3 linked regions of the Homo sapiens genome follow. The protein of the gene in region 1 binds, or shares a complex with, the protein of each later gene. Each region holds a gene or a part of one and is shown in the gene's direction. Other genes may lie near its edges. The genes, in order: CDK8, MED13 and MED12.

Evidence for each region.
Region 2: the proteins of CDK8 (region 1) and MED13 are in contact, whole or in part, in a cryo-EM structure (PDB 8TQC), measured with the Homo sapiens proteins. Residues at the interface, in NP_001251.1 of Homo sapiens: Leu9 (codon at 5,107), Glu12 (codon at 5,116), Arg13 (codon at 5,119), Arg71, Lys74, His75, Pro76, Leu81, Gln82, Lys83, Val84, Tyr133, Asp137, His140, Tyr141, Met330, Gln331, Phe335, Leu336, Leu340, Pro341, Thr342, Ser343, Asp344; in NP_005112.2 of Homo sapiens: Thr1616, Met1617, Asp1618, Arg1619, Lys1621, Val1622, Gly1623, Ile1624, Pro1625, Thr1626, Asp1627, Gly1628, Asp1629, Ser1630, Val1732, Lys1733, Thr1734, Leu1735, Thr1736, Gly1737, Phe1738.
Region 3: the proteins of CDK8 (region 1) and MED12 are in contact, whole or in part, in a cryo-EM structure (PDB 8TQ2), measured with the Homo sapiens proteins. Residues at the interface, in NP_001251.1 of Homo sapiens: His143, Ala144, Trp146, Phe180, Asn181, Ser182, Pro183, Pro186, Ala208, Arg209, His210, Thr212, Lys213, Met273, Pro274, Pro320; in NP_005111.2 of Homo sapiens: Pro26, Gln27, Gln31, Glu33, Asp34, Leu36, Asn40, Val41, Lys42, Gln43, Gly44, Phe45, Asn47.

The regions. Positions count from the first base shown.
Region 1 is NC_000013.11:26,249,560-26,257,168, forward strand, and holds the start of CDK8 (cyclin-dependent kinase 8), read left to right. Parts: upstream 1-4,569; 5' UTR 4,570-5,082; coding exon 5,083-5,210; intron 5,211-7,609.
Region 2 is NC_000017.11:61,943,243-61,950,349, reverse strand, and holds part of MED13 (mediator of RNA polymerase II transcription subunit 13), read left to right. Parts: intron 1-3,332; coding exon 3,333-3,433; intron 3,434-3,749; coding exon 3,750-3,882; 3' UTR 3,883-7,107. UniProt on the Homo sapiens protein: Component of the Mediator complex, a coactivator involved in the regulated transcription of nearly all RNA polymerase II-dependent genes.
Region 3 is NC_000023.11:71,121,516-71,128,622, forward strand, and holds part of MED12 (mediator of RNA polymerase II transcription subunit 12), read left to right. Parts: intron 1-46; coding exon 47-301; intron 302-684; coding exon 685-831; intron 832-992; coding exon 993-1,092; intron 1,093-1,222; coding exon 1,223-1,359; intron 1,360-1,579; coding exon 1,580-1,711; intron 1,712-2,078; coding exon 2,079-2,205; intron 2,206-2,643; coding exon 2,644-2,873; intron 2,874-3,248; coding exon 3,249-3,329; intron 3,330-3,460; coding exon 3,461-3,631; intron 3,632-3,835; coding exon 3,836-3,980; intron 3,981-4,147; coding exon 4,148-4,198; intron 4,199-4,520; coding exon 4,521-4,639; intron 4,640-4,825; coding exon 4,826-4,969; intron 4,970-5,453; coding exon 5,454-5,617; intron 5,618-5,820; coding exon 5,821-5,952; intron 5,953-6,377; coding exon 6,378-6,605; intron 6,606-6,780; coding exon 6,781-6,925; intron 6,926-7,082; coding exon 7,083-7,107. UniProt on the Homo sapiens protein: Component of the Mediator complex, a coactivator involved in the regulated transcription of nearly all RNA polymerase II-dependent genes.

The DNA.
Region 1 (7,609 bases):
CTGTCTCCCTCCCTCCCTATCCATTCATCCATCCATCCATTTACCCATCTATCATTCATCCATCCATCCATCCACCCATCTATCTATCCATCCATTCATTCATCCATCTATCATCTATTCACCCATCTATATATCCATTATCCATCTGTTCATTCATCTATTCACCCATCTATCTATCCATTCATTCATCTAACTATTCATCTATCTATCTATCTATCTATCTATCTATCTATCTATCTATCTATCTGTCTAATCTGTCTACCTATTTGTCCATCCATCCATTCATTCCTCTATCTTCTATCTATCCATCAATTCACTCATCTATCTATCCATTCATTTATCTATCTATCTATCTAGCTATCTATCTATCTATCTATGTCACCATCCATCCATCCATCCATCTTGCCTCCTACAATTAATTCTTCACATAGCACCAGGATATTCTTTTTAAAGCATAAATCACATCTGGTCACTCCCCTCCTTATAACCTTCTGAAAGGTTGCCTGCAAATAAAACCCAAACGCCTTGCTATGGTCAAAAAGGCCATATATAATCTGGTCCCTGTCTACCTCTCTGTCTTCACCTCACACAATTTCACCTCTTACTCATTATATTCTTGTCATCTTTCTGTTCCTTCATTCCCAGCTTTGCCTTTTGCACTTGCTGTCTGTTTAATCTGCCTGGACTACTCTGCTCCCTCATCCACAGCAGATTTTGTTTCTCAACCTTCAGGTCTCTGCTTAAGCATTGTCTCCTTAGAGAAACCTTGACCGTCTACCAATCTAAAGGAATTTCCTCCTGGTCTCACTTTCTATCACATTGTCCTGTTTTATTTCCTTTATAATACTTAGGGCATTCTTCCTCCTGTGAGCTCCCTACCCCCATCTCCCTCATGCCCCCTAATAAAGGAGCTCTCATATTCTTGCATGGTCCTGTCCCTGTGGCTACACTTAGTTGGCCTAGGACGGGCCTGACTCAGCCATACCAGAGCCCTTCTTGGGATTTTTAGAACCAGAATTGAGAAACAGTCAATTCTTCGCTAATGAAAGCCATTGTCTGACGTAAAATTCAGCAACTATTGGTGGTCATGTTTCCCGTTGTGTGGAGGAAATGAGTCCACAAAGGCAAATGATACCCACATGGTGAAGGGGAGAAGAGTAAGATATTTTTGAAAGTATTTTTTATATTCTGGTTATTTCTAAGGTCTAAATTATATTCTGGATGCTTGCAGAGTTAGTAAGGATACTTTTTGCATCTATAGTTTCTTTGAAAATTTTTTAAAAATCAGGCCAGAAAGACAGAGTGAAAAAAATGAAATATTAAAAAAAAGCTCTTGGATTGATTAATCTAACTTGTTCTTCCTTGTGTCGAACACTGTGCTCACATGTAGATGGTTAATATGTGCGGGATGAACGTGCCACCTGTAGAATGAGAGGTTACATGCTTTCCACTGAAAGCATGCCTTAATACTGAGTGAGAAAGTGGAAGTCAAAGTTGTAGAGACTGCAGTGATTAACTATGAGAAGAGCCACTTGGGCTTTTACATTAATATATCATGAAGCACTCAGTCCTTTTGCAGCTATAAAAAGCCCTTTTTAGAGGCAAGACTGAGGCAAGATACTAAATGTTTTACAATGACTGTCCTCTGACAGGTGGAGACCTTTATTATTATTAATGTCCATTTCAACATTTATTGAAATCAATCCAATGAAACACATTCTAATGAAATATAATTACGCAAACAATATGTGCTTGGAACTGTAGGGGATATATAGATGATTAAGGCAGGAACTCAGTCACTAAATTTATTAAGGGGCAGATTTTTTTAATCGCATAAAATAAATGATTAAAATACAAGGTAGCTATAATGAGTTACAAATAAAGTGCAATGGTGCCAGGGCTGGGGTAGAGGTTCATGATAAAGAAAGGTCATATCTAGTTGCAAGAACTGGGAAAGACTTCATGACCAAATTAAGCACTTGGGGGATGGGTAGGACTGTAAAGGTCAGAGATGGTATGAGGAAGCATCTTAGCCCTTAAGAACCTTAAGAACACACAAAAGGAGACACTTAAAACTAAATATTAGATGCTGCTGTTCCTAGCATTAGCCATGCTCTCCTATAAGGGGCCCTTAGTGGCTATCTCTTTCTCAGCTCCCCATCCTGATACCATTTTACAGGGTCAGCTTACCTCCTACCACCATATTCCTCCAACCTAGTGTCTAGGCCTCTAACTCTCACCCTGGCTTCAAAGAGAAAAGCAGATCTTGCTCTTCCCTAGTCCAAGGTTAGCTTCTTTTCCTGCCCCCAGGAAAAGACTGACAGTCAGGACTGACATTCAGGATACTCAGTTGACAGTGAGGACACTCAATTCCTTCAGGGAGAGTTCACCTTCACCCAGAGTGAAGCCAGCCAAAACAGTGTATAAAAGTACATTTTTAAAAGTCTGAGGCCAGGTATGTGGCTCATGCCTGTAATCCCAGCACTTTGGGAGGTTGAGACAGGAGGATCACTTGAACCCAGGAGTTAAAGACCAGCCTGGGCAACAGAGCGAGACTCCGTCTCTCAAAAAAAAAAAAAAAAAAAAAACTTAGCTGGGTGTAGTGGCACATGCCTGTAGTCCCAGCTACTCAGGAGGCTGGGGAGGAGAATTGTTTGAGCCCAGGAGTTCAAGGTTGTAGTAAGCTGTGATCGCATCACTGCACTCCAGCCTGGGTGACATAGCCAGACCCTGTCTCAAAATAAAAACACAAAAAGACAAACAAAAAAGGTCTGAGACCTTCAGTGTTCCAGAATAGTGTGTATAATTGGTACAGGAGGTGGGGAAGGGGGACCCGATACAGTGTAGGGGCAAGCTGAGTCCCATGCCTCTTCACAACTTTTCCTCCAGTGTGGTAGTTTGATTTCTCAAGATCCATGAGTAAATATGTGCACAAAAGACACATCCCTCAAAAAATACAAAATACATTGTCTAAGGAAGAATCTTTTAAATCCATATTCAGAAAATGATGTAATTCTTTAAGGATGCAAATGAGCAGTTCTGCTAGAGAGTTACCCAATTTTCATCACTGAATGGAAACAAATAATATGCCATTAATGAAAGCCTACATTTGTTTTGTGCTTTGCACTTTGCAAAGAAAAAATTCTAGGCTCCAAGAACACATTAGTAAATGACAATGCAGGATTCAAACCCAGTATAGTAAAATACTCAATACTTATATAGTATGCTAGGTAAAAACAATTTAATTTTACACAGTGGTGAAGTCACTAATTTTCTCCAAGGAAAATTATATAAGAGAAAGCCCTTTGGAGGCTTTTTCACAAGATGATATCATCATCATCATCATTGGTATATGGATCTTTTTGAGATAAACATGTTTATTCATTCATTAATTTAACAAGTGTTTACTGTGCATCATTATCAAGGCATGACACTAGGTTTTACAGAAGATGCAAATATGACTTCCTATAACAACTTAGGATCTAGCAAGGTAGAGGAAATAAAAGATGAAAGGAATTTGATAAATATCACAGGAAAGGTGGGAAAAAAAGTGTTAAAAAGTTCACATTAAAACTGCAAAGTTCATATTCCCTTTGGGAAGTGGGGAGCTTTAGTGGAAATGGTAACAATTGGAAAACCAAAAATTAAAAATAGACAAGGGGGGTAAGATAAAATGATAGATTAGTATCAAGATACCAGGACTCCTGAAGCAGGACATATTGCTACCTTAAGATTATTAACAAACTAGTTCCCATGGATTTAGATCCTTTCTGTAATCATAGCTAGAAACTGGTGTTCTTATAGGTAGTATCGCAGAAGGCTGTACTGTACTCAATACTTCCTGTATATGGATAGGAAAGGTTTGGATGGTCATCTGTCACAAGAGTAACAATGTTTAGGAGTAGCTTGGACACTGGTCATTGATTCACTTTTATTGGTGCTTGTAATGTCAGTATGTTGACATCATTGTGCAGCCCTTATCAGATTGTGAACACCAAGAGTACCCCAACTGCTGGCCCGCGAGCTGTTTACAAATATCATACCGGCTTTTATCGATGATAGTGGCCTTTAAAATCTGGAGTTCAGAGTGGCACAAAATGTGTTTCTAATGCAAACGACTCTCCTTCCCACGTGCACCTCTTTGATCAAGTTTGTGGCTGAAATCAGACTCTAGTTAGATCGCTGTAAAAATAAAAATAAATTTTCCCCAAATGATTGAAACGAATTTCACCCTAGACTACGAGTCCCATCATGCAACGCTCCCATATTCCCACCGTGTGGGGCGGAGTCGTAGAAGGGGCGGCAGCGGCGGCGGCCTGTGCATTCTGGGTATTGTAGTCTGGGGCCCGGCCACCGCTGGGGCTGGTTCCACGTGGTGCATTTGGCGGCAGCTTTGGGCAGTGGCTCCCCTGCTCCCTCCACACGGTCCTCAGGGTGCCAGCGCCAGCAGGGGCGGCCAGCCACCGCGGGAGCGGGCTAGAGTGTGGCCCGGAGGCAGCCCGAGGCTTCGCGACGTTTTTGCGACAGCCGCGGCCGTGTTCCGCGAGTGCCCTCCCTCCTCCTCTCTTTGAGGAGGTACCGGCTGTTGTGCGGCTCTGCCCTTCTGTTTGAGTGTATGGGAGAGTGAGTGAGTGAGTGAGTGTGAGCGTGTGTGTGAGAGCGTGAGGCGTGAGTGCGCGTGTGAGAGGACGAGAGCCCGCCTGGCCGCCCCGCCGCTCCCGCCGCAGCAGGAGCAGAACGCGCGGCCGGAGAGAGCGGCGGAGCCGGCGCCCAGGGAGCCCGCGGGGACAAGGGCAGAGACACCGCTCCCCACCCCCAGCCCTCGTCCCTCGGCTCTCCTTCGCCGGGGGATCCTCCCCGTTCCTCCACCCCCGGCCGGCCTCTGCCCCGCCGTCCCCCTGGATGTCCCTGGCGCTTTCGCGGGGCCTCCTCCTGCTCTTGCCGCATCAGTCGGGCTGGTGCTGCGGCCGGCGGGCGTAGAGCGGGCGGGTTCCCGGGGGCTGCGGCTGCCCGTGCTTCCCCGGTCCCCACCCCTGCCCCCCGGCCCCCCGACCCAGCTCTCCGGCCTCAGAGGCTGTGACAATGGACTATGACTTTAAAGTGAAGCTGAGCAGCGAGCGGGAGCGGGTCGAGGACCTGTTTGAATACGAGGGCTGCAAAGTTGGCCGAGGCACTTATGGTCACGTCTACAAAGCCAAGAGGAAAGATGGGTGAGTGTGTGTGTCTGGGCCGGTGTCCGCGCTGGGCGGCGCTCCCGCAGGCCGAGGCAGGTAGCCCGGAGGGAGAGCGGGCCGCCGGGGTGCCGGGCTCTGACTTCCTCGACGCCGGCCTCTGGCTCCGCCAGCCAGGTTTGGGGAGGAAGTGGTGTACGAGGGATCCAAACCCACGAGAAATCCTGCGTGCCGCGTCTGTGTTCTGCTCTGGTGGTAAGAGGCAAGATGAGCCTCTGCACCGTGGGCTGTATACTTTTCAAGGATTTCAAAGCTGATTCATGAAAAAATTCGTTCTAAAACGCCGGGTTAAATGTTTTTTGTTTTTTTTTTTCCTTGGTCGATTTATTATGGTAACCTTCTGGGGATTTCCTCACCCGCCTCTGGAGTGTCATCCATCGGTCTAGAAGGAAGGCTGTGATCCTTTCCCCCACCAGTTTGTGATCGATTTTTTATCAAATTTGTATTTTATTTGAGGAAAGGAAGGCAGCGAGTGAATGTGGTTCTGGAGAGAGTTCCCCATAGTGATCATCTGCAACATAAATGTTGCAATTGCTATTTAGATATTATTAGCTGTGAATTTTTACATAGAACAATGGGGGTTTGGTGCAGGGTGGGTGGTGGGGAAGAAGGCAAGTGACATAGGGACTATCTCGTTCAGGCGGTTTCCCCCAAATTTAGCGGCTGGCAGTGAACTTTAAATAATCCCTTTGCTTTAAATATTCTTCCCTAGTAACAACTTAATTAAACCTATGACTGGTAATGCTTCCAATTTAGTTTCTTAACAGGCAAGTGAATTGTTCATTTTTTCTCTTTGTCAGTAGATGAATGTCTTGTAATATTGACAAAAGAGAAGGCAATTCTTAGTTGGGGGGAAAATATATTTTATTAACTCCATGTTTTCTTGTAAAATGGATGTTGTCTCTGTTGCCTTTGACAGAATAGAAAATTATTGAAAAGTCAAAGCTTATTATATAATCCTTGGATTTTATTAGAAACGAAGTAGCTTTACTTGAGCATCCCAGTTTAGTCACCTGCTGTATGATGTTTAATCACTTAAAATTTCCAATTAGGTAGGAGAGTATGTTCAGACTACATTAGCACGAAAAAAAAATTCATAAAGCTGAAGTTCCCTACTGTGGGGTAGGGGGGCGCATATTTACAAATACTTTAGTATTCTGGATGTTGGAAAGGAAAGTGTATATTTATTGGACATTTTTCTTAGATTTACTGAAATGTCTTTCTAAAAGTATTTACAATGGACTCTACGAGGAAGATAGGAGTTCTAATTAATTTAGAATGTGTATTTTAGTGCTTTTATGCAACAGTAAAGTGGAACAGATCGGCAGAAGGTAGGGATTTGGATTTGAAAACTTGATATTCTGGGCGCCGCACGTATTTAAAAGTACTTTTTAGCGGAATGGATAGTCTGGTGACACTGGAGAAATCAGCGTCTGGAGATATTGCTGACTCTGTTGTTGTCTAATTAGACTTATTGTTGAAGTTTTACTCTGTAATGACATATATTTTTAAAATTATGTTTGTTAACTCACCATACAATATTTCTCAAAAGCTTTAAACCATCTCCCCTTCCCCCAGTATTATGTAATTTTGGGCATATTCATAAAATCCCCAATCCCATGAGATTAGACATTACAGTACATTTGACCAAACTGACATGTTATATAAAATTCTAGCGCCTTTGCATTATTTTTAATCTGTGTGAGAGAAGCCGGTTCTGTTTTCATAAATTACCAATTTAAGCTAATAAAATATGCATATTTGTTTTAACGTTGTACATTTTATTAGAAAACTAATACTGTGTATTGGCAGGGGGTACTTAAGCACATTTTATATCTCTATGGTCAGGTTTTAATTTAGGCCGTTAAGAATAATTTGAAAGAATAATTTCAATATCTTTGAATTTAAAGATAGTTGAAGGTATAATGTATGGACATTCTTAGTCATCTGTGACAGCTGAAAAGTAACATTGCATTTTGGAAAAAAGAACTTATTATTTGTAATCCTTGGAGTTTGTTTTCCATCAGTCTTTAATGATTCTCTTTATGTGATGAACTTCTATTTTTAATGGATCAAATGTCAAGAGAGTTTTAAAATTACTATCTTTTAGAGATAGTTTTAGAGAGTTTTAAAATTACAGGGATTTTTTTCGGTTTGACTTCTCTTTGTAACCTCACTCTGGTAAAGTATCGCATAGTATTTATGAGGTTCTTTTGATCTTATGTCAGTGAAATGTAATTTAATGCATTTTAGTCCTGGTAAAATAAAATTTGTGGCTGTTTAATCTTTCATAATAAGATGATGATCAAATAATTTGTTTCTAGTATTGATTTACTTTCAAATTACATTATATATTCTGCAGCTGAGATTTGTTCTCT
Region 2 (7,107 bases), on another chromosome or scaffold:
TCCTAAGTCAAACTCCTAGGGCCCTTGTTGTTAGTGTAGATTGAGTATCCCTTATTCGAAATGCTTGGGACCAGAATTGTTTCCATTTTTGGATTTTTTCAAATTGGAGATGCTCAATCTGTTTCAACTGCATATATGGAAATTTAGAGCTGAGAGAAACTTTATATTACCTCTGTCTAACCTTCTCATTTTCTAGGTGAGCATATTTAAGTTCAGAAAAACTCACCTGTTTAAAGTCATAAATTGGTAATAGACTCAAGACTGAAACCTGGGTCTTTTAATGATTATTATGTTATTCTTTGAATTACATCATACTGCACTGCTGTTATGCTGCATTATTTTGGGGAATAAAAGATTTATAATCTTGGGCTGGGCGCAGTGGCTCATGCCTGTAATCCCAGCACTTTGGGAGGCTGAGGCAGGTGGATCACAAAGTCAGCAGTTTGAGACCAGTCTGGCCAACATGGTGAGACCCCGTTTCTACTAAAACTACAAAAAAATTAGCCAGGCGTGGTGGCACGTGCAAATTAGCTATTTGGGAGACTGAGGCAGGAGAATCACTTGAACCCGGCAGGTAAAGGTTGCAGTGAGCCGAGATCGCGCCACTGCACTCCAGCCTGGGTGACAGAGTGAGATTCCATCTCAAAACAAACAAACAAAAAAAAGATTTATAATCTTTGTAATACTTGATTTTTAGTTTCATTTACTACTTAAAAAAGTTTTTCTAGCTGTGTGTAGATTGCTGTGTTAAAAAAAAACTGAGTGGTTTTTAAATACAGTAATGAGACTCTCAGATTCATCGTGATTTATTACAACAAACTCAGGCTGGGCACAGCGATTCACCCCTATAATCCCAGCACTTTGGGTGGTCGAGGCAGGAGGATCACTTGAGGCCAGGAGTTTGTGATCAGCCTGGACAACATAGTGAAATTTTGTCTCTCTAAAAAGTTTTTAATATTAGGCATGGTGGCATGTGCCTATAGTCCTAATAACATGAAAAGCTGGGGCAGGAGGGAGGATCGCATGAGCACAAGAGGTTGAGGCTGCAGTGAGCCATGATCATGCCACTGCACTCCAGCTAGGTGACAGGAGACCCTCTCTCAAAAAAACAAAACCGAATTTGTTAGTAAGCAATGTAACATGAAGTGGAGATAAGTCACAAAATGAGATATAAAAGCCCTATACAGAATTATATTACTGCTGCTAATATTGTTCCAGAATAACAAATTTAGATGTGACTCACTTATTCTTTTTTTTTTTTTGAGACGGAGTCTCGCTCTGTCGCCCAGGCTGGAGTGCAGTGGCGGGATCTCGGCTCACTGCAAGCTCCGCCTCCCGGGTTCACGCCATTCTCCTGCCTCAGCCTCCCAAGTAGCTGGGACTACAGGCGCCCGCCACTACGCCCGGCTAATTTTTTGTATTTTTTTAGTAGAGATGGGGTTTCACCGTTTTAGCCGGGATGGTCTCGATCTCCTGACCTCGTGATCCGCCCGCCTCGGCCTCCCAAAGTGCTGGGATTACAGGCGTGAGCCACCGCGCCCGGCCGTGACTCACTTATTCTTATGTAAAACCACCGGAAGTTGACTGTTTTTAATCCACAAGTCATGCTAATTTAAATACTTGCTGCCGGGTGCAGTGGCTCACACCTGTAAACCCAGCACTTTGGGAGGCTGAGGCAGGCAGATCACCTGAGGTCAGGGATTTTCTATATACTAGTAGTCTTTGGTGTCTCCACAAAACAAAGGATTCTTTGGTCCTTTGGGAGGGTGCTACACATGCTATCTGTCCTCTTTTCTAGTCATAATACATGTATGCACACTAAAGTCTGAAAAACAGAGGTAAATAAGATAGTTTACCTAGCATTTCCCAAACTTATTAATACACAAGGAAAGGATTATTTAACACCTGTTAATAGTTTATTATCTTAGTGTTTCAGGGGATGTGTTCAGGAAACACAACTTTACAAAAAGTCCAAGGGACTATCTAGAGCTTTTCCTACTCAGTATTTATTTGCAGAAAGGATAGTATAAAGCGGGCATTCACCCTTAGATACATTGTAACAAGATTAGGACTTCTGGTTATGAACTATCACCTAAGGCATAATTTACCATACTTTTTGTTCACTTTTTTTTTTCATATATCTTATTTTAGTTTTATACTGTAGGCAGTAAAGCCACCTGGTTTGTTTCTCTTTGCTTGGAAATATAATGGGTTGTTAGCTAGATCCCTTTTTATCATAGGAATAGAGTACTGGTACTAATTACATTTTAAAAATTTGTAGTGATTTGCAGTGTGAGACTTGCTTATAACTCCATAAATCAAGAGTTTGTAGACAGTTGAAACATAGCTATTTTTGGTTATATTCCTAAATGTACTACATGAGTTTCTATATGTATTGCAGTTGCAGAGGAGAGAACACCTAAATATAAAATAGTACCTTATACAGTGTACAGAATGAGATCTACCAAGAGTTACTGCAGTGAACATCACCATTGTTTTATCATAGCTTTTTAATACTATATTGACTTATAAAAAAAATGACTCATTTAATTGGAGTGTGGAGTAGTTTATTCCTTTCTCCCACTATTCATTGCCATATCTAAATGAGTGTGCCAGTTTTTACCTACCCTCTATTATGAAATTGAGTGGGCAAAGCAGGCATCTGTGCACTGTATTACTTAGAGTGTTCTCAGTTCAACCGAAGATAGCTTGTTTAAGGTTTATTGTGCTGTAACCAAACTATTTGCTTATGCTTATTCCTGTTACTTTTTTCAGTGCTAGACGTAGGTATGTCTGCGTAGTCATAAAGGGTGTCATATATCTTAAGGACAGACTACTCAGGTTTAACTACTCAATTTAGTGCCTCCTTAAACATTTACTTTGCACATCTAGGCAAATTAGACTTAGCAGGTAATTAGAAATTCTTTTTCTAAGGATTATTGTATGGTCTCAAAAACAATAAAGCTAAAGAAAAGGAAATAGATTCAAAGTAAGTTTTGCACTTAAAAATCACTTCTGGCTAGGCACAGTGGCTCATGCGTGTAATCCCAGCACTTTGGGAGGCCAAGGCAGGAGGATTGTTTGAGGCCAGGAGTTCAAGACCAGCCTGGTCAACAGAACAAGAACCTGCCCCTACTTAAAAAAAAAAAAAAAAACATTTCTATAATGAATTAGTTAAAAGAGAACAAGCATTTTTATAGTGGCTTTCATTCATAACATAGGACTAAAATGTATTTCATCATTTTATAAGATATATTGGGAGAATAAGGTAAAACTAAATAGCAGATTATTTTCTGTTTGGCTGACTGATTGATTACCTGTTACCTTCTTAGGCCTCTTTGCACCTCCACGTGCCTTCAGTGCAATCTGACGAGCTGCTTCACAGTAAACACTCCCACCCACTTGACTCAAATCAGACTTCAGATGTCCTCAGGTACAACTCTTTTACCATTAACAGTTTGTCACTGCAACTTTAAAAGAATATAATGTTGATTCTTATATATTTTTCTCATTTTTGGCAAGAATTTACAGTTGTGTACCAGTGGATCTCTAGATAAACACTGCTATTCTAACTTGAGTAATCTACTTTTGAGAATAATTTTTATGGAAATTGCTTCTTTCCCCTCAAGGACTCTCTGTTACACTCTTTTTTAAGGTGACTTTGAGTCTTAAATGCCATAATTGAAAACTGCTTCCAAAATCTAGGTTGGAAATAAATAAATGACTTATGCAGTTTATTTGCTTTTCAGGTTTGTTTTGGAACAGTACAATGCACTCTCCTGGCTAACCTGTGACCCTGCAACCCAGGACAGACGCTCATGTCTCCCAATTCATTTTGTGGTGCTGAATCAGTTATATAACTTTATTATGAATATGCTGTGATCTTCATTTGATGGAACTGTGCAAGAAAAGAACAAGGAAAAATGGATGTTTCGCTGCAGGATTAAGTTACAATTATCTTCTCAGTGAAGGTCATTTGTGATGGGGTCTAATTCTTATTACTTCAACAAATATTGTTTTGACTTGGGGGGAGGGGCTATAACCCTGCTATTTTTCATTGACTCTATTGAACTCTTTAGGATGATGACTGATCATACAAAACGTATTATAACATTTTCGTAGCAAAATTAACCTTTTTTTTTTCCAGTCACAGTATTTGTGAAAAGTAATGAGCCATAGTACCCAGTCATGTTAAATGAATATTAAAAGCATGGAGAGGAAACATGAGGAACAATGAATTTCAACATATGGCTTCAGAACATGAAGATGTTCTTGTATGGATTATAGTATCTAGTATTCAAAAATGCCTGCATCTCTTCTCTTATTTATTGTAAGTTTTTAAATGTATAAATTGTCTTATATTTCTTAACCTCTTTTATAAAAATTTTCCTAGAAGGTTTATACTGCCTTCTTGCTTTAAAGCAATTGGTCTAAAATATATGTAATCGTCTTAATTAAAAAGTTGCAGTAGGGTTGCTTTTAGAGTATTATTTTTTTGTAAGGGGGTGGGTGGGACAGTAAATTTGTATTGTCTCGATGTACAGTTTAACGGGGATAGAGGGGGAATAATGTCCATACCATTGTGTGTGGAGGATTTACAGCTAAGCTGTAGTTGCAGAGTACATGTACAGTAATGAAGTTCACTGTGTTTATAAATTGAAAAGGTACCAGGTCTTACAGCATTTTATATATCACATCTTTACAGAATAACATGATGGCAATATACAAGTGGTATTGTTAGGTGGTTTAACTTAGAATAAAATGAGAATTCTTCAGTTATATTTTGTACTATGGTTTAGGGCTATGACTAATATTTCAGGCCATTTCCGGTGAAAGAAACTTAGTTTTACAAGAAAAACCATTTGCTACTGAATGCTTAAACTAATTTTAGTGTTTAATGTTACATGCTTAAATTTTTTTCAGTTTTAACAGTGGCATATTTAGGCATGGAAATATTATTATGAAATTTATTTTCAGGATCTGCTATAAGGTTGAAATTTAGCCCAGCTCTAGGCATTTTACAAATTATTTTTCAAGCAGTCATTCTTGATTGTTTGACTTTTTTTTTTAAATTAAAGATTGGGAATGTATGTGAGAGTATGCATATGTATGGGTGTGTGTGTGTGCGCGCAATCAAACTGTGGTGTAAATAGATTCTCAGTGAATTCTGGTATTCAGACTCTATTCCACTAGTGAAAGAACCATTTTTTAAACTTCCCTTGCCTTTTTTATTTATTTAATTTTCTTGGTTTGGAGATGTCAGTCCCAAACACCAGAGTCTGTACTTTTCTATAACACAGCTCAGATTAAGGTAGGGCATATGCCAAGGAGGTTCTCACCTCCCTAAAGAAGGGACTTGAATTTTAGGGACTTTAATTCACCCCTCCTTCAATACAACTTTCCCCCTTCTTGTTTGCACATGCCAAGATAACTGCTTTTATGCAGGCTGTACCCCCTTGAAAAATCCTTTCTACAGTGCTGCTCACAAAAGAGCCCAAGTTCGCCTCCTACCTGCATTGCTGACTTGAATTCACAGTCGCCGAGTCTACCTAGCTTTCTTGGAAGCAGTCTAGCAAAATTTCTATTTGTACGTTCACTAATTATCTACAAGGACAAAATCAGTTGTATTTACAAAACTCTACTTCAGTGTTTGTTTTAGTTTTTTTTTTTACTGAAACTTGTTTTTGTGAATACTCTGTGCTTAGAATTAAATATCACTTTCTTATGAACAACATAACTTCTTCAGATTGTGTATATGAAAACATTAGCAAGTCTTGTTTTTTCTATGAAGCAAACACAATTGGTGACAAAGGTTGTCAATCATTTCTTCAAAATTATAATGCAGTTCTAATGGTCAGCATATTTTGATATTAAATTTAAAGATCACCTCTCTGCATTTGTTTTTAAATTATGCTAATACACCACACATTATGTTGGTATGTTTTGTTCTGTACTTTCTTTAAAAAAAAAAAAAAAACTTGTCTGAGATTTGAAGGAAAATGTGCTTATTTGGAATTTCCATAAAAAGAGTATCCTTTTTATACACTTAATAGTGACTTTACAAAATAAAAGTTATATTCTCAGTTGTTTAAAATCACTAACCTATGATAACCACACCTCAATTTGAAAGTAGATTTAAAATTATTCCCTGACAGGTTATTTAATATGGAGCCATAAGGAGGGAACCCAGTACACAATTATTTTTTATTTGGGAATCAGGGAATAGTTCCCAAATATACAGGATTTATTGATAAGATTTTTTTTCTTCCCTTCATATATCCATTCAAACTCAATGGAAAGTTATTAAATAACCATTAGAAAAGCTCAGTAGACTTATTTGAGAAATTAAGCCTTGTGCAGGATGATGGATTTGACTTACTAATGTACTGTCACAGACAAATATGGGTAGTTTTGTTTAAATAGGTAAGCAAAATATTATACTTTATAGCAGTGGATTACCAACACCTTGACTTCTTTGTTACAGTGCTAACATCTTTTTTTTTGTGCAGGTATCCATGATTATTAAGCAGGGTGGAAGTTCAGTATTTTGTCATTTAAAAAGATTAGTTATATAATGTCTGCTTCCAGCCAGTGAGAAACATCTAGCCATACCTTTCTTATGCAAGCCATTGAGTTATCAGGACTGTGAATTAACACTGTATGAATAAATTTCTGTACACCTTATTGTTTGGCCAGAAGGCCACCAAGTGTACTTATATGTAATCCTTAAATTTTAAAGTAGCTGTAATTTTTAAATATTTCTAAACTTTTCTTAAACCACTAAAATTAAGCTCTTACTACTTAGTCAACTATCCTCAGCTGTATTCGTACTCAATTGTCAGTATGGCACAGATTACTGTATTAAAATATTCTCCTTTCGTCTTCATATTTACCTTCTGAGGTAATTTTTTAACTTAATGTGTTACTACAAAGATTTGCAGATCTTTAATCAAGCACTATGTTAATACTGTAATATCAGAATACTATGTTGCATTATTTAAAATGTTCAAATTGAATAGATTAAAAAGTTTTTAAATGCTATTGCATCATATAATTTGCTATTCATCCACTATGGCATTGCATATCAATCAGTTAATACACTTAATG
Region 3 (7,107 bases), on another chromosome or scaffold:
GGTCCCCTGGAGAGAACTAGGGGCTCTGATGGTCGTGTCTTCACAGTACTCTGGGGAATTTGTTCAGTCTGCATACCTGTCCCGCCGGCTTGCCTACTTCTGTACACGGAGACTGGCCCTGCAGCTGGATGGTGTGAGCAGTCACTCATCTCATGTTATATCTGCTCAGTCAACAAGCACGCTACCCACCACCCCTGCTCCTCAGCCCCCAACTAGCAGCACACCCTCGACTCCCTTTAGTGACCTGCTTATGTGCCCTCAGCACCGGCCCCTGGTTTTTGGCCTCAGCTGTATCCTACAGGTAGGTACTAGGCGGGCCCAAGGAAGCATTGAGAGATAGCCTGAGAAGAATCAGGTGCCCATCCCAGAGAATAGGGGTAATTCCAAATTGGATGTGGGAGTAGGTGCTGAGTACTTGCTTGGAGGTTGTTGTTTCTTGGTAATGGGGTGTTAGTCCCCTTTGGGGGTTTTCACCAGCCTCTCTCTCCCTTCCAAGGCTAAATAGTGGGCCCAAAGCCTTTTAGGAAAGTGAGTGAAGGGAGGGGATCGGGGTGGAGTGATGCCTGTCTTGGGGACCCAGTCAGAATAACTTTGGATCTGGAATCTACGGGTTGGGTCTTAGAATGGGATTCCAGAGGGGTAACCATGGTGAATGAGTTGGACTTAGCTGTTTCTATCTGGTAGACCATCCTCCTGTGCTGTCCTAGTGCCTTGGTTTGGCACTACTCACTGACTGATAGCAGAATTAAGACCGGCTCACCACTTGACCACTTGCCTATTGCCCCGTCCAACCTGCCCATGCCAGAGGGTAACAGTGCCTTCACTCAGCAGGTATGTCTGACCACTAGCCTGGTACTCTCAGATTGGGCTATGAGGCTAAATTACTCTTTCAGAAGTAGTGATTTGGAGTCTAGTACTATTCTTCTAGCCTGGGGCTCTGGCCTTTTATATGCCTTGGTACATCCTTGTAGCCTTCCTTTTTAACATTGCAGGTCCGTGCAAAGTTGCGGGAGATCGAGCAGCAGATCAAGGAGCGGGGACAGGCAGTTGAAGTTCGCTGGTCTTTCGATAAATGCCAGGAAGCTACTGCAGGTATGTGTCAGAGAACAGATAATAGGAAATATGTTTGAGGAAAGGATGGGGATAGTAAGGACATGTAGATCTAAGAGCCAGAATGCACCGGGCCTCTGGTTCAGTCCCCTTTACCACTTTTCCTCCTTAGGCTTCACCATTGGACGGGTACTTCATACTTTGGAAGTGCTGGACAGCCATAGTTTTGAACGCTCTGACTTCAGCAACTCTCTTGACTCCCTTTGTAACCGAATCTTTGGATTGGGACCTAGCAAGGATGGGCATGAGGTAAGCGAAAAGGGGAATAGAAGGAGCAAAAAACATTGCAAGAGCAATAATATGTCTGAGAGGGAAGTCATGGTGAGGCATTGAAAGCAGAGCATATCTGCAGAAATGATCTTACTGGGCCCAGGATGTTTTATGATAGAGCCCAGTCTTTAGGAAATTGGAACTCATTTCTTTGTCCCCACCCCTACCTTACTCCTCCTTCTCTTCCTTTGTTCTCCAGATCTCCTCAGATGATGATGCTGTGGTGTCATTGCTATGTGAATGGGCTGTCAGCTGCAAGCGTTCTGGTCGGCATCGTGCTATGGTGGTAGCCAAGCTCCTGGAGAAGAGACAGGCGGAGATTGAGGCTGAGGTTAGAGGGCAGAGATAAGAGAACAAGATTGGCCAATGGGAAGGAATTTACTGCGGTTGGAGACCGAGAGATGGAGGTGGTGGAGGGACCAGAGTTGAAGGTGTGAGAACAGAGTAAAGAAGCAAAAGAGAACCTAAAGGCAAAGTTACGGACGTGAGGCGAAAGTAGAGAAGAGTGGATTGTAGTAAGAGTTAGAGATAACATCAAGGCTTCAGTTGGGAGGTGGTAAAGAACATGGAGGTCAGCAGGGGAATGAAAGTGAAAAGCATGGGGTAGAGGTCAAGCAGGTGGTAGTTTAAGGCCTACACATTGAGGAGTGAAGAAGCAGGTAAAAGTCAGTTCTACAATTTGTTCTGTCATCTTGCAGCGTTGTGGAGAATCAGAAGCCGCAGATGAGAAGGGTTCCATCGCCTCTGGCTCCCTTTCTGCTCCCAGTGCTCCCATTTTCCAGGATGTCCTCCTGCAGTTTCTGGATACACAGGCTCCCATGCTGAGTACGGACCCCTACCACTCTCTAGTTACCTCTGCCTAGACTCAGTTACCCACCACTGTCATCAGAAAGCATAATTAACAGCCCTCTGGTCTATATTTCTCTCTTGGGCTCTATGCAGAATGACTTTTAGATGTAGTTCTAGTGATCCTCTTTAACTGGTCATCTTACAGTTAAACAGAGTAGAGAAATACAGAGAAGGATAAAAACAAGAGCTTGTGATTGAAGCATTTTCACTGCATAAATCGCAACAAAGATGTTACATTCCTTTCTGAGATGATGTGTGGGACAGCATGTGGGGTAACCAACCACACTTTGTCCCTCAACAATTTCTGGGATTTCTATTTGATCACTCTTATTATTGCCTTAGGTGTGTCCCTCTCTCTTTTGGCCCACCTTTTTGTGTTCTCCTAACTTATGTTTCCTCATTCCCTTCCTCCAGCGGACCCTCGAAGTGAGAGTGAGCGGGTGGAATTCTTTAACTTAGTACTGCTGTTCTGTGAACTGATTCGACATGATGTTTTCTCCCACAACATGTATACTTGCACTCTCATCTCCCGAGGGGACCTTGCCTTTGGAGCCCCTGGTCCCCGGCCTCCCTCTCCCTTTGATGATCCTGCCGATGACCCAGAGCACAAGGAGGCTGAAGGCAGCAGCAGCAGCAAGCTGGAAGTGAGTGGGCTTTTCCTTGCACTAGATCGTTTCTTCTGACATTTCCATCTTCATGGCTCCCAGGGGCCTCTAAGAGCCTCTTTTGCCTGGGGGAGGGGGGTAGTATTTTTCTTAGCACTTGGTGATTGACCAAGCACTCTCACATCAATTGTTTCATTGGTTCCTCCCATCAGCCTTGTGAGGTACTCTTATCCCCATTTTCAAACTGAAGAAAACAGAGGCCTATACTGGTTAAGTGATTGGATGAGGCTTGACTCCAGATCCTGTGCTTTCCCCAATCTGGTCTTCTCTCTCCACTTCCCCAATGAAGTTTTACAGATGGTGGGAGCCACTCCCTAGGGCTAAAGCAACTTCGCTTATGTTCTATGCCCTCAGGATCCAGGGCTCTCAGAATCTATGGACATTGACCCTAGTTCCAGTGTTCTCTTTGAGGACATGGAGAAGCCTGATTTCTCAGTAAGTTCAATCCTGAGCGTGGCAGAATCTGGATCCTTGGATCTTCCCATTATGCCTGCTTTTGGCATGTTTTTTTGCCCCCTCATCCACTTTCCTTCTTCTCATGTTCTGCTTTCTCACCTTTCTCTCAGTTGTTCTCCCCTACTATGCCCTGTGAGGGGAAGGGCAGTCCATCCCCTGAGAAGCCAGATGTCGAGAAGGAGGTGAAGCCCCCACCCAAGGAGAAGATTGAAGGGACCCTTGGGGTTCTTTACGACCAGCCACGACACGTGCAGTACGCCACCCATTTTCCCATCCCCCAGGTACTATTCCCCAGCACCTTGTGATGATCTGTTTTGAACCCAGATTGCTGTCAAAGGAATTTGCTGAGGGGTTGGAGCTGTTCTGAGGATGTGGGTTGGGAAAGGGAAGGGCTTTAGCATGTGGATGCTGAGGGGTGTGGAGCATGCTTTCAAGAGGAGGGAAGGAGATCGGTGCTGGAGTCTGATGGTGCTGCTGGGATGCAGGAGGAGTCATGCAGCCATGAGTGCAACCAGCGGTTGGTCGTACTGTTTGGGGTGGGAAAGCAGCGAGATGATGCCCGCCATGCCATCAAGAAAATCACCAAGGATATCTTGAAGGTTCTGAACCGCAAAGGGACAGCAGAAACTGGTGGGTTTGAGGCTCCTTAAACAGATCTCCCCCAAAGAATGCCCTAGTCAGTCTTCCCTTCCCCAGTATAGGGAACTCCCCAGTCATGTCCCAATGTCCTGTCTCTTGGAGTCTCCTGAGAGCTCTAGTCCTTTTGAAACTTCCCCCCTCATTCCCCCCCTCTACAGACCAGCTTGCTCCTATTGTGCCTCTGAATCCTGGAGACCTGACATTCTTAGGTACCTCACAGTAAGCCCCATACTGCCCTCCCTCCCTCTCCCTTCCCTCCCTGAACCTAGCACCTCCCTGTACATATTCCTTTAAGGTCCACATAGTCTGTGGTCCTCTAAACCTTTGCTTCACTGTCCCCTTCCCTTCATTCCTCCCCCATCCCTTCCTTGACCCTCCCTTCCCTGTTTCCCTCTTCCTTCCTTCCCTCCCTCCCTCCTTCCATCTCTCCCTCCCTCCCTCCCATAGCCTTCTCTCCATACCCCACTCCCCACCCCTAGTCAACTAGTTATCTTCCCTGTCTTGACTGGTCCCTTTCAACTGTCCCCTCAGGTGGGGAGGATGGGCAGAAGCGGCGACGCAACCGGCCTGAAGCCTTCCCCACTGCTGAAGATATCTTTGCTAAGTTCCAGCACCTTTCACATTATGACCAACACCAGGTCACGGCTCAGGTGTGGGCCTAAGCCCAGCCCCTTTCCCACATTCTGGCCTCCTGTTCTGTTTTCCTTTTCTTCCCTATCTTCTCCCTGCTAGGCAGGCTAAGCCTCCTGGTCTCATCCCCTTCCAGTGTCATCCTTTCCTCCTTCCCTGGTTCTTTCCTCTCTCCACTCCCATCTCACTCCCACTGCCCTTATCAGGTCTCCCGGAATGTTCTGGAGCAGATCACGAGCTTTGCCCTTGGCATGTCATACCACTTGCCTCTGGTGCAGCATGTGCAGTTCATCTTCGACCTCATGGAATATTCACTCAGCATCAGTGGCCTCATCGACTTTGCCATTCAGGTGGGGAAGTTGGGGAGATGAGGGTGGAGGCAGGAGTTCATGCCATATAGCGGCTACGGAGGGTCATAAGGACAGGCGTAGAGGCTCCAGCCAGTTTCCCAAGCTATTTGAAGGGGCAGAAAGACTAGCATGGGGGGAGTGGAACATGAGCTAAGACTGCAGGAATAGAGACTTAAGTGCTCCCTGGGGAGGCCAAGAGGCAGATTAGAGCATTGGGCACAGACCATCCTCCCACTGTGGAGTTCATAGAACTGTATCCTGGACACTGGTTAGAGGTGTTGTTGATAGAATAAACTATCAACAATAAACTATCAATAGAGGTGTTGTTGATAGACTGTGGCATAGGGTAACGAGCCCTTCTATCCTGTGGTGGCTCCAGCAGGAAGGGGCTCAGGCCCAGCCTTGCCAGCGTCCCCACAGGAAGGTGGTTTCTATGTAACACAAGGGGCCTCTTTGCATTTCTCACCCCCGTTTACTCTGCTAGCTGCTGAATGAACTGAGTGTAGTTGAGGCTGAGCTGCTTCTCAAATCCTCGGATCTGGTGGGCAGCTACACTACTAGCCTGTGCCTGTGCATCGTGGCTGTCCTGCGGCACTATCATGCCTGCCTCATCCTCAACCAGGACCAGATGGCACAGGTCTTTGAGGGGTAAGCAGAGCTTCGGAATAACTGAAACAAAGCTCTGGCGAATGCCGGTGGAAGTGGCCTGGGAAGAGCATGCACTTCCTCACACTCTGGGGAAGCACCTGCTGCTCAGGTGGGAAAAGAATGGTATTTCCCAGAGGCTTGAATCTGTTTGGAGGAGCCCGCATACCATCTGCTGACCCTCCCAACCTTGCTTCTTCATGCAGGCTGTGTGGCGTCGTGAAGCATGGGATGAACCGGTCCGATGGCTCCTCTGCAGAGCGCTGTATCCTTGCTTATCTCTATGATCTGTACACCTCCTGTAGCCATTTAAAGAACAAATTTGGGGAGCTCTTCAGGTAAGAGAGGTGGAAGGTAAGGGGTAGCGAGTGGGACCTACTCCCTTCTTCCCATGACCACCCAACTCAGGAGGAGAGGATGGCCCGGGACCCTGCTGCCTGTCTAGGGTCATTTGTGGACTGTGTCCTCCACATACTGTTGTGTTACCAAGAGTGGGCCCTCTTCCTCAGCAGGCTTGCTCCCCGCCTATATCTGTGGGGCCCACCCTCTTCCCCCTTTTCCTCACTGCCTTCAGAGGCCCCAGTTCCTTATTCCCATGTGGTTCCTTTCCTGCCCAGTCTGTTTTGTCCCATCTCCCTTTTCTTGTCTCAAGATCCTTCATCCCTCACTTTCTCCTTTTTTTCTTTTCTCCCCTTTCCTGACCATCCCTCGACCTCAGCAGGCCTTCTTCAACACTACTATCTCCTTTCCTCCATCCCTGCAGCGACTTTTGCTCAAAGGTGAAGAACACCATCTACTGCAACGTGGAGCCATCGGAATCAAATATGCGCTGGGCACCTGAGTTCATGATCGACACTCTAGAGAACCCTGCAGCTCACACCTTCACCTACACGGGGCTAGGCAAGAGTCTTAGTGAGAACCCTGCTAACCGCTACAGCTTTGTCTGCAATGCCCTTATGCACGTCTGTGTGGGGCACCATGATCCCGATAGGTATGGGGTGTACTGAGTGAGGAAGGGCACCATGCCCCCATCTGAGATAGGGAGGGCTGAGGTACCCGGGAGGTACTACAACCTTGATTATTTAGTGGGGCAGAGATGAGAAGTTAATGGGTCTGAGGTTTTGTGGAGCAAGGTTTTTCCTGAGGGCATTTGTACTTTTCCCTAGGGTGAATGACATCGCAATCCTGTGTGCAGAGCTGACCGGCTATTGCAAGTCACTGAGTGCAGAATGGCTAGGAGTGCTTAAGGCCTTGTGCTGCTCCTCTAACAATGGCACTTGTGGTTTCAACGATCTCCTCTGCAATGTTGATGTGAGACTTGGGGTGGGGTTTTGCTAGTGGGGCAGTGACCAGGGCAGGGGGCTGGTTGTGATCCTCTGACCAGGGACAGAGTTCCGTAGAGTGGAGGCACACCGCTTTGAGTGGGCCTCCACACTGAGTCATGGTGTCTGTCTGTTTTTTCCTCCAGGTCAGTGACCTATCTTTTCATGACT